Homo sapiens: one gene and its partner. The protein of the gene in region 2 binds, or shares a complex with, the protein of the main gene of each other region. Each region holds a gene or a part of one and is shown on either strand. Other genes may lie near its edges. A codon is read from its position in the direction of its gene.

What was found. Proteins that work in one complex are often made in the same cells at the same time.
Region 1: the proteins of UBL5 (region 2) and SART1 are in contact, whole or in part, in a crystal structure (PDB 4PYU), measured with the Homo sapiens proteins. Residues at the interface, in NP_001041706.1 of Homo sapiens: Met1 (codon at 2,784), Glu3 (codon at 2,778), Arg15 (codon at 2,742), Lys17 (codon at 2,736), Cys18 (codon at 2,733), Asn19 (codon at 2,730), Asp21 (codon at 2,526), Asp22 (codon at 2,523), Asp26 (codon at 2,511), Lys29 (codon at 2,502), Leu30 (codon at 2,499), Ala33 (codon at 2,490), Gln34 (codon at 2,487); in NP_005137.1 of Homo sapiens: Ser117, Leu118, Ser119, Ile120, Thr123, Leu126, Arg127, Leu130, Leu132, Lys133, Leu135.

What each region holds. Positions count from the first base shown.
Region 1 is NC_000011.10:65,964,190-65,971,733, reverse strand, and holds part of SART1 (U4/U6.U5 tri-snRNP-associated protein 1), read right to left. Parts: intron 7,220-7,544; coding exon 7,164-7,219; intron 6,643-7,163; coding exon 6,516-6,642; intron 6,393-6,515; coding exon 6,287-6,392; intron 6,033-6,286; coding exon 5,955-6,032; intron 5,848-5,954; coding exon 5,748-5,847; intron 5,659-5,747; coding exon 5,516-5,658; intron 5,385-5,515; coding exon 5,178-5,384; intron 4,476-5,177; coding exon 4,351-4,475; intron 4,264-4,350; coding exon 4,148-4,263; intron 4,056-4,147; coding exon 3,913-4,055; intron 1-3,912. UniProt on the Homo sapiens protein: Plays a role in mRNA splicing as a component of the U4/U6-U5 tri-snRNP, one of the building blocks of the spliceosome. May also bind to DNA.
Region 2 is NC_000019.10:9,822,731-9,831,121, reverse strand, and holds UBL5 (ubiquitin-like protein 5), read right to left. Parts: upstream 3,205-8,391; 5' UTR 3,138-3,204; exon of another isoform or gene 3,058-3,137; intron 2,796-3,057; 5' UTR 2,785-2,795; coding exon 2,729-2,784; intron 2,531-2,728; coding exon 2,447-2,530; intron 2,286-2,446; coding exon 2,248-2,285; intron 1,158-2,247; coding exon 1,114-1,157; 3' UTR 1,007-1,113; downstream 1-1,006. UniProt on the Homo sapiens protein: Ubiquitin-like protein that plays a role in cell proliferation and sister chromatid cohesion by associating with spliceosomal proteins. Participates thereby in pre-mRNA splicing by maintaining spliceosome integrity.

The DNA.
Region 1 (7,544 bases), on a different chromosome or scaffold from region 2:
CCCTTAACTGCCTTGTCCCTCCTCCCTAGAAAACCCAATCCTCAATCCCACCATCCACTGCTTCAGGGCATTAATCCCACCATCCCCCTCCTCAGCTCCTGAATCCCACCATCCCCCTCCTCAGCAGCTCCTGAATCCCACCATCCCCCTCTTCAGCAGCTCATGAATCCCACCATCCCCCTCCTCAGCTCATGAATCCCACCATCCCCCTCCTCAGCTCATGAATCCCACCATCCCCCTCCTCAGCTCATGAATCCCACCATCCCCCTCCTCAGCAGCTCATGAATCCCACCATCCCCCTCCTCAGCAGCTCATGAATCCCACCATCCCCCTCCTCAGCAGCTCATGAATCCCACCATCCCCCTCCTCAGCTCATGAATCCCACCATCCCCCTCCTCAGCAGCTCCTGAATCCCACCATCCCCCTCCTCAGCAGCTCATGAATCCCACCATCCCCCTCCTCAGCTCATGAATCCCACCATCCCCCTCCTCAGCTCATGAATCCCACCATCCCCCTCCTCAGCAGCTCATGAATCCCACCATCCCCCTCCTCAGCTTCTGAATCCCACCATCCCCCTCCTCAGCAGCTCATGAATCCCATCCCCCTCCTCAGCAGCTCATGAATCCCACCATCCCCCTCCTCAGCTCATGAATCCCACCATCCCCCTCCTCAGCTCCTGAATCCCACCACCCCCCTCCTCAGCACCTCATGAATCCCACCATCCCCCTCCTCAGCAGCTCATGAATCCCACCATCCCCCTCCTCAGCTCATGAATCCCACCATCCCCCTCCTCAGCTCATGAATCCCACCATCCCCCTCCTCAGCTCCTGAATCCCACCATCCCCCTCCTCAGCAGCTCATGAATCCCACCATCCCCCTCCTCAGCTCATGAATCCCACCATCCCCCTCCTCAGCTCATGAATCCCACCATCCCCCTCCCTCAGCAGCTCATGAATTCCACCATCCCCCTCCTCAGCTCATGAATCCCACCATCCACACTGCCACTGGCAGGCCTGCTCTTCTCCCAGGGTGTATCTGCTCTCCACTCTCCAGAACAGCATCTCCCATCTCTTTGCACCACCACCTCTGCCACCTCTTCACTGGAAAAACACCAGAACAATCGGCCATGGGCTGCCTTGACTTCCCCTAAACAAGGTCACCCACAGCTGCTGTGCCCTCCCCACCTTCCCTCCTGAAATAAATGATGACACGAGCTGGCTTCACTCAAGCCCACCCTCCACTTGCACTCTAGGCCCCAGCACCGCCTGCCGAGATCTTTTTCTTCTTCCGTCATAAATGTGTCTCCCACATACTCTAGAATCTCCGGTAGTCAGAAAAGGCTCCTTTGCGGGTGGGAAACTTGATTGGATGCTGCTTACAACAAAAAACTAAAAAGACATTTTGGGGGATAACTGGAAAATGTTGGCATGCGAGCTGCTGTTTTACAGCATTTATGGGCTTGTTAGGGCAGTGTGGCTATGCGGGAGAAGGCCCTGATTTCGCCAGATGCCTACTGAAGTCGTTAAGGATGCAGTGTCATGATATCTGCAACTCCCAGTGGTCAGGAAAAAAAGAAGAGAAAGAAAAGAACTGTAACAATGTTTATAATTACTGACTCTAGAGGACAAAGGTGTTCACTGTGATAGGCTTTCCACTTTTTTGCCTGCACAGTGTGTGGGGTGTGGCTCATATGTTTAAAAAACCTTCTAGGTGGCCGGGTGTGGTGGTTCATGCCTCTAATTCCAGCACTTTGGGAGGCTGAGGAGGGTGGATCACAAGGTGAGGAGTTTGAGACCAGCCTGACCAACACGGTGAAACCCTGTTTCTTCTAAAAAATACAAAAATCAGCTGGGCGTGGTGGCATGCACCTGTAGTTCCAGCTACTCAGGAGGCTGAGGCAGGAGAATTGCTTGAGCCCGGGACATGGAGGTTGCAGTGAGCCGAGATCGCGCCACTGCACTCCAGCCTGGTGACAGAGCGAGACTCCGTCTCAAACAACAACAAAAACTTTCTAGGCTACACCAGGCCTGGTGGCTCATGCCTGTAACCCCAGCACTTTGGGAGGTGGAGGCGAGAGGATCGTTTGAGCTCAGGAATTTGAGACCAGCCCGGGCAACACACTGAGACCCACAGGCGCACGCCTGTAGTCTCAGCTACTTGAGAGCCTGAGGCAGGAGGATCCCTTGAGCCCAGGAGTTCAAGGCTGCAGTGAACTATGATTGCACTACTGCACTCCAGCCTGGGCAACCGAGCGAGACCTTGTTTCTTAAAACAACAACAAAAACAACCTCCTAGGTGAGTCTAATGTGCAGGCAGGCTGAGATCCACGGGGCTAGAAACCCTTATGTTCATTTCAGTCATAAAACAGCCCTGTCAGCCTATTGCTCCATTTCTCTGTTCCTTTTTAGCCGGGCAAACTATGTCCCAACACCTGTTCTTAGAAATAAAGTATTACTGGAACCCAGCCACGCCCACTCACTTACAGACTGTCTTGGCTGTTTTCCCTATAACAGCACAGCATTCAAGGTGCCTAACAGAGACCATATGCCCTTAAACCTCAAATACGTCCTCTCCAGCCCTTCAACAGTAAGCCTGGCCTCCGTCCCGGGTTCAGCCCTCACTTTTTCAACTCCCCTGTCCTCCGGGTCCTGAATCCACTGCAACTGTCCCCACTTTGCCTCCCAGTAGTATCAGAAGCTTCCCTCCCTTGCTCCCTCTCCTGGACACGCTTTCTTGGCTTCTTCCTAGGTGAGAAGTGTGGGGTAGGGCTAAAAGTGTGGCCTCTGGAATGATGGAGATGACAGAACCTTCCTCATAGGGTGTTGCTGGGAGGATGGAATGAATCAACAAACACAGAACATGTGAGCAGTGCCCGGCCCACTGTGCCTCTGGGGCAGCGACGACCATGGGGTCAAGGCTCCCCCTGCGTTGGCCCCCTACCTCTCCATCTCAGCTCACGCCACCCCTCACTCTCTGCTCTGCTCCAGCCTCCCTGGCCCTCAGGCACTCTAAGGTCACTTCTCCTGAGACACCTGCTGGTTGGTCTACTGCCTAAATGCCAGCCTGTCCACCTGCTGCCACCCCTAACCCCCCGCAAGGCTGGCTCCTCTGTGTGACTCAAGTCTCAGATGAACTAGTACCTTGGAAAGGTCTTCCCTGCACTCTCCCATCTAAGATCCCAACCCCCGGCACGTTATCTTGGTTTACTGAGTGCCCAGCTCCCACCACCATCAGAAATTACCGTTCCTGCATTAACAGTCACTGCTGCTCCCCACGCTCTCCCCCACACACTCTAGAAAGCCAGCTCCATGAGCCCAGGGCCCCATGGCTATCCTGTTCACCAATGACCTTCTCAGCCCAAGAACAATGCACTACTCACAGCAGGCATTCAACAAACATGCACAGAAGAGAGAGGCAAGGAAAGGATCCCCTACTAAAGCAGGCATCTAAAAATTTTTGCAAAACATGACTTTAAACAGAATAGAGGGCTGGGCACGGTGGCACACACCTGTAATTTTAGCATTTTCGGAGGCAGAGGCAGGCAGATCATGAGGTCAGGAGTTGGAGACCAGCCTGGCCAACATAGTGAAACCCCGTCTCTACTAAAAATATAAAAATTAGCCGGGTCTGGTGGCGTGCGCCTGTAATCCCAGCTACTCAGGAGGCTGAGGAATAAGAATCACTTGAGCCTGGGAGGCGGAGGTTGCAGTGAGCTGAGGCTGCGCCACTGCATTCCAGCCTGGGCGAAAGAGCGAAACTCTGTCTCAAAAAAAAAAAAAAAAAACAAACCCAGAAAACAAAAAACAAATGGAAAAGAGGCTTCAGACAGGAATGTGGCTGTCGCCTATGACACAGGTGCTCGTGAGGACAGGTGACTGCTGACGCAGTCACCCTGCCCATGCCCAGCCTCACCTTCTCGCCACTGTCTCGCAGCTGCTGTAGCTGCTGTAACTGTCGCAGCCGGCGTCCCTTCTCCAGCTGCTTCTGCAGCTCCAGCTCCGCCTCGTCCTCCTCCAGCACCTGCGGGGACCCCGGCGGTGGAGCTCCACCTTCCTCTGGGGGAAACACAGGGGATGCCTGCTCAGACCATCTCCTCCAACCCGCGGCTCCTGTCCCTGCCCCTCCCACCCCCTGGCCGGGCCCTCACCCTCATCACTGATGTCCATGTTCTCCACTCGGGTGTCGTCCGACGGCAGGGGCTGAGGCACAGGCTCCTTCTCCTCCTCCACTTCGGACACTCGGCGGCGACCCCGTCCCCGCAGTCTGAGGGAAGGAGGCCTCTCTGGTGAGCACCGGTCCCCAGGCCACCCCAGCCCAGCCATCTCGCCCCACCACCGTGTCCAAGCCCACCTGGAACCAAAGTCCCCATCCTGAGTCTGGTCCCCGAGAGGCAGCAAGTCATCTGCCCGCACTACTACCTCCTTCTCCTTCTTGCGGATTTTCTTCACCCTCCGCTTGGTCTTTTTAAAGGTCACCTTAAGGGAAGAGGGGCGAGACATGGAGCGGGGGCCACAGAAAGGCAGGTCGCCACAAGCCCTCGAGGGTGAACACTTCTTTGGTGTTCCTCTGTGCTAGCCAGCGTCCTGAGCGCTTCCCACACATGAGCAACATGTGGGGTGGTTACTATCTCAATTCCACTGGTGAGCTAGGGAAACTGGGGCACAGGGAGGTTAAGTACCTTCCCCAAGGTTGCCCAGCTCCTAGGTGGGAGAGCTGGGCAGTCTGGCTCCAGAGTCCTGCTCTTACCCACTGAGGAAGACGCCTACCGCGCCAGCTGTCTACCTCACGTTCACACAGTCACCCTGTGGACAGAATCCACGCACACCTCTCCAGTCACCCCTCACCCACGCTGTCACTCATCCTCACAGCAACCTCAGGAGGCGGCTCCTGTCACTGCCATTCCAGATGGGGTGCCCCAGGCTCACAGTTAAATGGTTTATCCAAGGCACGAGCTGGCAGCATGGCAGAGCCGAAACAGACTGGGGCCCATCTGGCTCAGCAGCCCTGACCCATCCACACCTGGTGCCTCCCCCGGTTGCCATTTAGTGCTCACCCGCGAGGCCAAGCGCTTTGTGAACACAAATACTCGCCCTGTCTTCTCAGTGCCTGCGGGCAGGGCAGGAGCCCCAGAGGGAGGGAGAATCTTGACCCCGAGTATAAGGCACGGGAGGGCTCACCATCTCCTCAGGCGTGAGGTATTCGGAGGCCAGCCGGGGCCCCACTGTGCTCAGGGACTGAGCCTGCAGCCGCAGCTTGGCCCGGATCTCCTCCAGCTCCCGCTCCCGCAGGCCATCAGCCGTGCCGCCCTGCTCCAAGCGGAAGGAATGTGGCCGCTCCCCTTCAAGCTCTTCGTCATACTTGGACAGGATAGAGCGAGGTTTTTGCTGCAAGGCAAGAGGTACAGGTTGGGACCCAGGCTGGCTCCTGAAAAGCCACTGAGCCACCACCTCCTCAGAGCCCCCATTCCCGACATTCTCCACCTCAGCCCCCGCCACCCAGCCTGCCCAGGCCGTGCCTGCGCCAGGTCGTCCACGCTCTCGTCCTCGGCATAGGGCAGGTAGTCAGGCTTCTTCTTCCGCAGCTCCACATTTTTCTCTGCCCGCTCCTTATCCACCAGGTTCACGTTCACCAGCACGTCCTCCTCCTCCTGCAGCACGCCTGGGGGCAGCACAGAGCAGTGGCCATTCACACTTGTCCGCAACTCAGCAGAGGCTGTGCCCCCACCCAGGGCACCCAGCTCGCATTACCTTTGTCCTTGAGGGTAAGAATCATTGTCTCCCCTTCTCGGAAGGAATCAATGGCATGCTCCACGGTGAGGCCCTGCAGGTCCCGGGCACTGTACAGGTCCTAAGGGAAGAATCGGCGAGTCAGGAACCTCCCTCCACGCACCCAACCTCGGGATTCCGGTAGCAAGGCCACCAGTGTCCCCTGTACCACCCCTGCTGCAGCCTCACCTGCCGCCTCTGCCCGAACTCCTCCTCCACCAGAGTGCTGACACCAAACTCTTGGTCCATCTCCTCCAGTAACTTGGCCTACGGGACAGGGAGGGGTGACCTAGGACTTCAGGCCACTCAGCATCACCAGAAAACACTCAGGGCTCTACCAAGCGGAGTGCAAAAAGGGCAGGCCTTGCAGGAAAGCTGCTGAGAATCCAAAGTAGATGCTACCGACCACGGCCCTTCCCTTCTCCAAGCCCCGTCTCACCTCTCTGGGGTTGGCCCCCGCCTCAGTGCCGTCAGGCCACCAGAAGCACTAGGCGACCACCCCATGCTGCCCAGGTGCTCACCCTCTTCTCTGCCAGGTCCTTCTCCTTCTGCAGCTGCCGGCTCCTCTCGATCCAGGCTGCAGTGTCGTCCAGCCAGGGGTCATCCTCTCCTAGGGTCTTTATCTTCCTGAAGAGGGGAAAAAGTGATGCTCAAGGAGCCCAGCTCCTGCTCCCCACCCCACTCAAGAGGCAGCCAAGGATGGTGGCCTCCCCAGCCCTTCCCTTGCCTGCCCTGGCCAGGACCCCTCACCCCAGCTTTTGGTTCAGCAGGCGCTTCTCCTTGGCAGCCGCCAGCTTCTCCCGCAGCTCCTCTCGCTGTCGCAAGGCCATAGGGTTGATGACATCAGCTGTCACGGGCTCCTCCTTGGTGCCCGCCTCTGGAAGGGGGGCCCAGACGTGAGGCTATGCCCGCCCATGGCTGGTGGGGAGAGGAGGGAGCCACTCACCCTGCCCCCTTCCAGCTCAGGGGGCCAGAAGGGGTCAGGACAGGAAGGAACAATCCTTCACCTCCCTGCTCCCACTTCGTCCCCACACTCCTGGCCAACCCATGCAGCACAACAGGACCCTCTGTGGCTTCCAAAGCCCCTCAAATCGTGCTTTAAAGAAAAACAAGAAACCCACCCCCGCACAGCGCAGTCTGCAGCAAGTGTGCACATCTTCCAGTCCATCTAACAACTCACAGCCAGAGTGAGTATGCGACGGCCACAGCTCCAACTCAGAGAGCAGGCGGAGCCCCAGATCCCCATTATACCAGCAAGGAGGGACCTCATGCCTTCCGGCAAATATGCATGTGTAAGACCACTAAACAGTGCTGAACCTGCCCTCTAACCCCACCTTCTTCAAAGACCCCTTCAGATGGCCTCTTTCCCCCAAACCCTATCCTCAGCCCCATACTCACCCTTCTTGATGGCATTAACCTCCAAGGGTTTCAGCCCCAACTTTGCCCGGAGTTTGCTGACAACAAGAGATACAAGTGTTAGGGGCTATTAAAGACACAGGGTGCCATGTGCATTTCCAGACAGACAAGAGGAGAAACAGGGTGGGAGTGAGTGGTCCCAAACACAAAGTCTGCCCCAGGCAGCCTAGGACACTGGGAAGGGCCCTGGCCTCCAAAGCAGGAAACATGGGCACCAGCCTGGTCTGCGTCTAACCAGTGAATGCCACTTTACTCTTAGGTTTTAGTTTTCTCTTCTATAAGTCAACTGTTGGCTAAGATGATTTAAACAATCTTTCCAACTCTGATTAGCACACTTTCATGTGAGAAAGCCTCCCCCGTGCT
Region 2 (8,391 bases):
ACATAGGGGAGACCCTGTCTGTACAAAAAATTTCAAAATGCCAGACGCGGTGGCTCACGCCTGTAATCCCAGCACTTTGGGAGGCCGAGGAGGGTGGACCACTTGAGGTCAGCAGTTTGAGACCAGCCTGGCCAACATGGTGAAACCCCATCTCTACTAAAAATACAAAAATTAACTGGTGTCATGGGGCACGCCTGTAGTCCCAGTCTCCTGCCTCAGGTGAGGCAGGAGAATTGCTTGAACCCAGGAGGCAGAGGTTGCAGTGAGCTGAGATCGTGCCACTGCACTCCAGCCTGGGTGACAGAGCGAGACTCTGTCTCAAATAAAATAAATAATAATAATAATTTTAAAATTAGCTGGCGTGGTGGTACACACTGCCCAGCTACTTGGGAGGCTGATGCAGGAGGACTGTGTTGAGTCCAGTTCAGGGCTGCAGTGGGCTATGAACATACCACTGCATTCCAGCCTGGGTGACAGAGCAAGATCCTGTCTCAAAAAAAGAAAAAAAAAAAATGCCAGGAACTGTGGATGTTTAAACATGCTTTAAACTCATTTATACCTCCTCACAATATGCCGATTGAAAGCAGACATGAAGTAAACGCAATTATTTCCAGTGGATAAGGAAGTAAAGGCTTACAGAGGTTAAAAAATTTTGCCTAGTGTCACTCAGCTGCTTGGTGGCAGAGCTGACATTCCACACATGGTCTGTGTGATTTCAGAATCTGAATTCCTAACAATTACATCTACTGTCATTAGCCGGAGGTTCTTTGGTTTATTAGGGTGACAATAATCCCAGAGTCTCTTGACCTTCAGACACCCACAGCAAACCCCAGAGCTCTCTCTGGGCTCCCACACAGACTCCCAGCCTGCTGGTCTACTCTGCCCTCATGGATCCAGTTGATCAGAGCTCTTATTTTAGCAGCTGCATGCTGATGGTGCAGTGATGACCAAACAGCGACTGATCCACCCATCACTAGACAGCTGTCATACAGAGACAACAACAAAGCAACATCTAAGTCTTTATTAAGGTGAGTTTTTACAAACAAGCATCTATCCCAGTGTGGGGGATGAGGATGGGAGAGGAAAGCGGGGCAGGAAGATGAGGATTCTCATCTATTGATAATAAAGCTCCAGGTTCATCCCATCGTGGATTTCATCTGAAGGAAAGGTGTTAAGGAATCCTGACTCTGACTTCCGTCCCCACCCCTCTCATCCATTCACAGCCGGGTCAGGTGGCCTGAGGTCTCAGCCCAGGGCTAAGGAAGCCCATTTTGGACCAGGCCATTTTTATTTGGAGAGAACCAAAACTTTACAAAAGAATTTCTGGCTGGGTGCAGTGGCTCACACCTGTAATCCCAGCACTTTGAGAGGACGAAGCAGGTGGCTCACTTGACGTCAGGAGTTTGAGACCAGCCTGGCCAACACGATGAAACCCTGTCTCTACTAAAAATACAAAAAGTTAGCTGGGTGTGGTGGTGGGCACCTGTAATCCCAGCTACTTGGAAGGCTGAGACAGGAAAATCGCTTAAACCTGGGAGGTAGAGGCTGCAGTGAGCCAAGATTGTACCACTGCACTCCAGCCTGGGCAACAAGAGCAAAACTCCATCTCAAAAAAAAAAAAAAAAGTTTCTGTTCCTTCTAGGCCAGGCACAGTGGCTCACGGCTATAATCCCAGCACTTTGGGAGGCCGAGGCGGGAGGATCACTTGAGGCCAGGAGTTTGAGACTAGCCTGGCATACATGGTGGAACCTCATCTCTACTAAAAATACAAAAACTAGCAGGGAGTGGTGGCACACACCTGTAATCCCAGCTACTTGGGAAGCTGAGGCAGAATTGCTTGAACCCGGGAGGTGGAGGTTGCAGTGGGTCAAGATCGTGCCACTGCACTCCAGCCTGGGCGACAGAGCCAGACTGTCTCAAAAAAATAAATAAATAAAATAAAAATTGTAAAAAGTTTCTGCTCCTTTTGCACAATAGATATGCCTGAGTCTCACCCCACCCTGACCTACTGTCCAGCACTCAGGTGGAGGTCAGTAATAAATATTTTGAACTTGAAGTCAAACTATTTCACCAACCACTCTCCTCCCCAACCAAATAATTACCTAGCTCCCATTTTCTAAGTGCTCACCATGTGCCACGTATTAAGTTAAACACTTAATATGCATAAGCTCATGCAGACTTTAGTTTTGAACAGATAACCGAGGCTGGGTATGTAGATGCTTCCTCAAAAAGTCACACAAAGGATACAGTCCCCCAGAGACACGTGGTCCTTAAAAATCGTGTACCTAAGAAAAAGAGACATTTCAGAGATAAGGCTAAGGAGGCTCTTCAGTCTGTAGGCCAAATGAGGTAGCCAAGCCTAAGCAAAGGGCTGCCTGCAGCGCTCCCCCAACCAAAACCTTCCGGCCTAGTCCAGTCCACCCAGTGGCTCTACCGCTGCACTCACCACTTCTTCAGGACAATCTTGTTCCAACGGGTACCAGTTTGGGCTGCAATCAGCTTCTTAAGGTCCCCGATGGTATCATCCGTGCTGGGCGCAGAGCAGTTAAGGCAAATGGAAGCGGTAGAACGAGGAAGAGGACATTCTAGGGCAGAATACCATCTGCCAGGACCCCATCCGCCCCCTCTCCCGGGTTTAACTAAAACCATCCGACAACACAGATTGAGTTGCCTGCCTCACGCCAAGCACCCCTGCGGGTACCACTGCCTCTCGGCTGCCAGTGGATACTTGCATTTAACGCGGACCTTCTTCCCCAGACGGTCGTTGCAAACAACCTCGATCATCCTAGCTGGAGCTACACAAAGCGGGGGGTGGGTGGGAGGCAGCAAAGTCAGAGCTTCAGGCGTCTCCCAGGCCCAGAAGCCCCAGCCTACAAGTCTCCCAGTCCCAGGCCCTAAAATTCCAGGTTACTGAGCCTTCCGTTCTGCCCCCAACCCCCCGGACTCGAATACTCCCAGGCCCCAAGTCCCCTGTCCCAGGGCCGCGAACCCCGGGGAGCCGCGCCTCCGCCCCTTCTCGCCGCCTGAAAGCCCTGCCACAAAACTCCCTGGCCTCACCTCCCACCGACCCCAGACCCTGGGTGGCTGGGTCGCGACAGCTTTCTCCGACTCCGAGCCTCTCCGCTTGACCCCCTCACCTCGAATCGCCTCGAACCTGCCGACGCCACCAGCTCCTCACCCGAGCGCTGAACCCCGGTCGCAGTTAACGCTAGGAACCGGAAGCGGAAGTTAAAGTTCGAGGCCGGAAGCCCTGCCCCTAGCCAGGGGGTGTGGTCAACACTGGGACAAGTTCTTCCGGGTCTGCAGTCTGTGGTGTGTTTGCTGTTCCCAGGTACGGTTTCGGTGTCCCAAGGCTTGACAGGTGTCGCGCCTGTGGTAGGCGCGCCGGGTAGAGAGGGGGGCCTCGGCGGGTTTGTGGCCAGGGAAGGGGCGTGGAGCGAGAGTCAGAGGTCAGGCGCCGGCGCCCAGCTCGTTTGAAGTCATTGTTTGTTGCAGGGAGACTCGGTCACATGGTGGGGACGCCAGAGGGTCCCGGGAGTAGGGGTAAGCTCCTGATCCTGAGCCCGAAGCCTCTTGCAGCGGCAACTAGGAGCAAGGGCGGAGGGTGGGGGTGGGGGACGAGTTCTGCAGTCATCCCTTCTGACCCCCTGGGTTCATTCAGGGCTGGGCTTGGTGAGCATTTGGCTCACCTCTTCCCTCTGGCCATCGCGTTCCCCCGGGATACGGACTCCAGTCAGTAGGCGAAGCTTGATCCTAGAGTAGACTCTACGCTGCCCAACAGCTGCTGTTACCGCATGGTGCCGGACAGTTCCAGGCTCTTGGTGTCCTGAAGAAAGATTTGGACCAGACACACAGAGATGGCAAAGCTGCAAGTTTATTAAGCACAGTATTCCACTCTCGGAGTGGGGAGAGCGGACTGACCTCTGCGAGATAAGATCAGCCCCAGCTTGGTATAGTTTGGGTCTTTTTTTTTTTTTTTTTCTGAGACGTAGTCTCGCTCTGTTGCACAGGCTGGAGTGCAATGGCGCGGTGCCGGCTCACCGCAACCTCCGCCTTCCGGGTTCAAGCGATTCTCCTGCCTCAGCCTCCCGAGTAAGTAGCTGGGATTACAGGCGCCCGCCACCACGCCCGGCTAATTTTTGTACTTTTAGTAGAGATGGGGTTTCACCTTATTGGCCAGGCTTTTTTTCTCTTCCCAAGGCTGCCTAATATCTAGCCAGTGTCTACCTTTTTGAATGATAGGTGTGTTGCTTACTTTGGCCCCTGTGTGCTTGAGAGCCGCCTCCATTCATGATATGCCGTCCATATGCATGAGCGCTAATGAGCTGGTTATCCTTATCATGTTAAGGATACTTTTTGTCTTTAATGCGCGTGCTTATGCCTAAAGAGCTGCTCCTTACTGGTTTGGTCCTGATTTCCCCGGCCGTGGGATTTTTACTGTTTTTTTTTTAATTTTATTTATTTATTTATTTATTTATTTATGGAGTCTCGCTCTGTCGCCCAGGCTGGAGTGCAGTGGCGTGATCTGGGCTCACGGCAAGCTCCGCCTCCCGGGTTCACGCCGTTGTCCTGCCTCAGCCGCCTCCCGAGTAACAGGGACTACAGGCGCCCCCCACCACCCTCGGCTAATTTTTTTGTATTTTTAGTAGAGACGGGGTTTCACTGTGTTAGCCAGGATGGTCTCGATCTCCTGACCTCGTGATCCGCCTGCCTCAGCCTCCCAAAGTGTTGGGTGTGAGCCACTGTGCCCGGCCTTTACTCAGTTTTTAATCTTCCTTTTGTTTTGTCTCCTCAGCTTCTGCCATTTATCTTGCTTCTTGCTGGGTGAGCAAGAAGGGGCGGGTGCCCTTTCACCTTGCTTCTGCTCTCTGCTTTTACGTATTTTACCCTTTATCCAACTTTTAATTCCCTTTGCTATTCTTCTGCCTCATTTTCCCTATTCTCCTTTCTCACTGCCAGTCACCAACCTTAAATGCCTGCGAGGTAACTGGAAACATTGCACATTTGCACAATCTCCTGCAGCTGTATCTTTGGGGAGCACTTTGTACCAGATTCCAGGTTTGTGAGGGCTGGTGGGACAAGGACCGTCCTTCCTCAATTCAGTCAAACAATTTGTAAACCAAAAAGTATCTGAGACAGGTCTCAATAAATTGACAGGTTTATGTAGACAAGGTTAAGGACAAGCCTGGGAGAAAAGGAACACAAAACCCCAGGAACAATCTGTGATCCGTGCTTTTTTCCAAATATGATTTTGAGGGCTTCATTATTTAAAGGGAAAAGTGGGCTGGAGGGGAAAGAGGGAGAGTATGGTCACATTATTTAATCTACATGAAGAATACTCCATTATGTATTCATTTGGTGCTCAGTAAATTGGCACTTTCCATAACATAAAGTAAGCTACCTGTGGAGATATCTGGCCTTTAAAAAAAAATTTTTTTTGAGGCTAGGCACAGTGGCTCACACCTGTAATCCCAGCGCTTTGGGAGGCTGAGGTGGGCAGATCACAAGGTCAGGAGTTCGAGACCAGCCTGGCCAACATGGTGAAACCCCGTCTCTATTAAAAAAAAAAAAAAAAAATTAGCCAGGTGTGGTGGCAGGCACCTGTAATCCCAGCTACCTGGAGGCTGAGGCAGGAGAATCGCTTGAACACGGGAGGCGGAGGTTGCAGTGAGCTGAGATCGCGCCACTGCACTCCATCCCTCCATCCTGGGCAACACAGAGTGAGGCTATCTCAATTTTTTTTTTTTTTTTTTTTGAGGCAGAGTCTCGCTCTGTTGCCCAGGCTGGAGTGCAGTGGAACAAACTCAGCTCACCACAACCTCCCGTGTTCAAGCGATTCTCCTGCCTCAGCCTCCTTAGTAGCTGGGATTACAGGCACATGCCATCACGCCCAGCTAATTTTTGTATTTTTAGTAGAGACAGGATTTCACCATGTTGTCCAGGCTGGTCTCGAACTGCTGACCTCAAGTGATCTGCCCACCTCGACCTCCCAAAGTGCTGGGATTACAGGCGTGAGGCACCGCAACCGGCCTATTTGCTTTTGAATGGCAGGATCCAGAGACTAAAACCCCCTTTTACTATCGTTGAACTATACTGCTACAGTGGTTTAAGAATTCTCCAAGGCCAGGTGCAGTGGCTCAAACCTGTAATCCCAGCAGTTTGGGAGGCCAAAGTGGGCAGATCACCTAAGGCCAGGAGTTCAAGACCTGCCTGACCAACATGGAGAAACCCCATCTCTTTAATTTTGTAAAAATACAAAATTAGCCTGGCATGGTGGCGCATGCCTGTAATCCCAGCCACTTGGGAGGCTGAGGCAGGAGAATCGCATGAACCAGGGAGGCGGAGGTTGCGGTGAGTCGAGATGGTGCCATTGCACTCCAGCCTGGGCAACAAGAGAGAAACTCCCAGGATTACAGGCATGCACCACCATGCCTAGCTAATTTTGTATTTTTGGTAGAGACGGGGTTTCTCCATGTTGGTCAGGCTGGTCTTGATCTCCCGACCTCAGGTGATCCGCCTGCCTCGGCCTCCCAAAGTGCTGGGATTACAAGTGTAAGCAACCACACCCAACCTCTCTTCTGTTTTTCTGTGCTAAGGTCTCATAATGTTTATCCCGTGTACTTTGCTTAAAAATTCCAGAAACTGGCCTTGAAAATCTAAATATAGGCCAGGTGTGGTGGCTCACACCTGTAATCCTGGCACTTTGGGAGGCCAAGGCAGGCGGATTGTGTGAGTTCAGGAGTTGGAGACCAGCCTGGGCAACACGCTGAAACCCCGTCTCTACTAAAATACAAAAAATTAGCCGGGCGTGGTGGCCTGCGCCTGTAGTCTCAGCTACTTGGGAGGCTGAGGCAGGAGAATTCTTCTCTTGAACCCAGGGGGGCAGAGGCTGCAGTGAGCCGAGGTCACGCCACTACACTCCAGCCTGGGAGACATAGTGAGACTCCGTCTCCAAAAGAAACCAAACAAAAAAAAGAAAATCTAAATATAAAACCAAGGTTGTGGAACGTCCCATCCCAGGGAAAGAATCCACAATCCTGTTTTGGTCAAGCTGACACCTGCCAGACCAGCAGGTGGCCCATTACTCAAAATAGTAATGGAAACCAGACATGCTGACTTGTGCATCTGAACTCCATGTCCTGACCCCCTAGCTGCAGCTGTGCCTCGGTAGAACACCCCTTTTCGTTCCTGTCTTGATGATTGTTGGAGCACTCTGTAAGTTTCCCTAATAAATGCTTTGGACTGATTGCTCTGGTAATTGGTGTTTTCTTGAAATCCCCACTGGCCCCATCTTGGGATGATTTAGGGCATTCCTTTGTGGGAATTCCCCTGCCTCTGCTTTTGGGGAGACTCTAGCCGGGATGAAACAGATTGGAAGGTCAAAAGTGAGCTGAGGGGGCTGAGGTGCCTAAGGAAGTTTAGAAGCAGCACATCTTTGCATTCTCTTAGAAATCCTGGGTCACAGCCAGGCACGGTGGCTCACACCTATAATCCCAACACTTTGGGAGGCCAAGGTGGGTGGATCACTTGAGGTCAGGAGTTCGAGACCAGCCTGGCCAATTGGGGAAACCCCATCTCTACTAAAAATACAAAAATGTGGCAGGCGTCTGTAATCCTAGCTACGCAGGAGGCTGAGGCAGGAGAATCGCTTGAACCCAGGAGGCAGAGGTCACAGTGAGCTGAGATATGCCACTGCACTCCAGCCTGGGCAACAGAGTGAGACTGTTTGAAAACAAAGAAATGCAGGGTCACACAAGCATTGACTGTAGTTACCACTTCATGGTAGGATTACTGAGAGTCTCATTCTCCCTTCTTTTTTTTTTTTAATTTTTTAATTTTTTAATTTTTTTTTGAGACAGTGTCTTGCTCTGTCACCCAGGCTGGAGTGCAGTGGCACAATTATAGCTCACTGCAGCCTCCAATTCCTGGACTCAAGGGGACTCACCTCCTGGGACTTCAGGCGTGCACCACCACGCCTGGCTGATTTTTTTAATTTTTGGAGAGACAGTCTCACTATGTTGCCCTGGCTGGTCTCAAACTCCTGGCCTCAAGTGATCCTCCCAAAGTGCTGGAATTACAGGCATGAGCGACCACACCCGGCCTCATTTTCCCTCTTCGTGGTGTTTTTCCAGATTTCTGACACAGAACATATGTTACTTTTGTAATCACCGGGGGTGGAAAAGGAAATGTTTGCTTTTTCAAAATGTTCTAATTTCTCAGTGCTTGATTCAAAGATCTGCCAAGCACAGGGTCTTGGTGCTGAGCTGTGGGGCGAGGAGTTGGGAAAGGGATGGGAAGTGCTGCTGAGAGAAGAGGAAAATGGGGCCGGGTGCCATTACATCACACCTGTAATCCCAACACTGGGAGACCAAGGTGGTAGATCACCTGAAG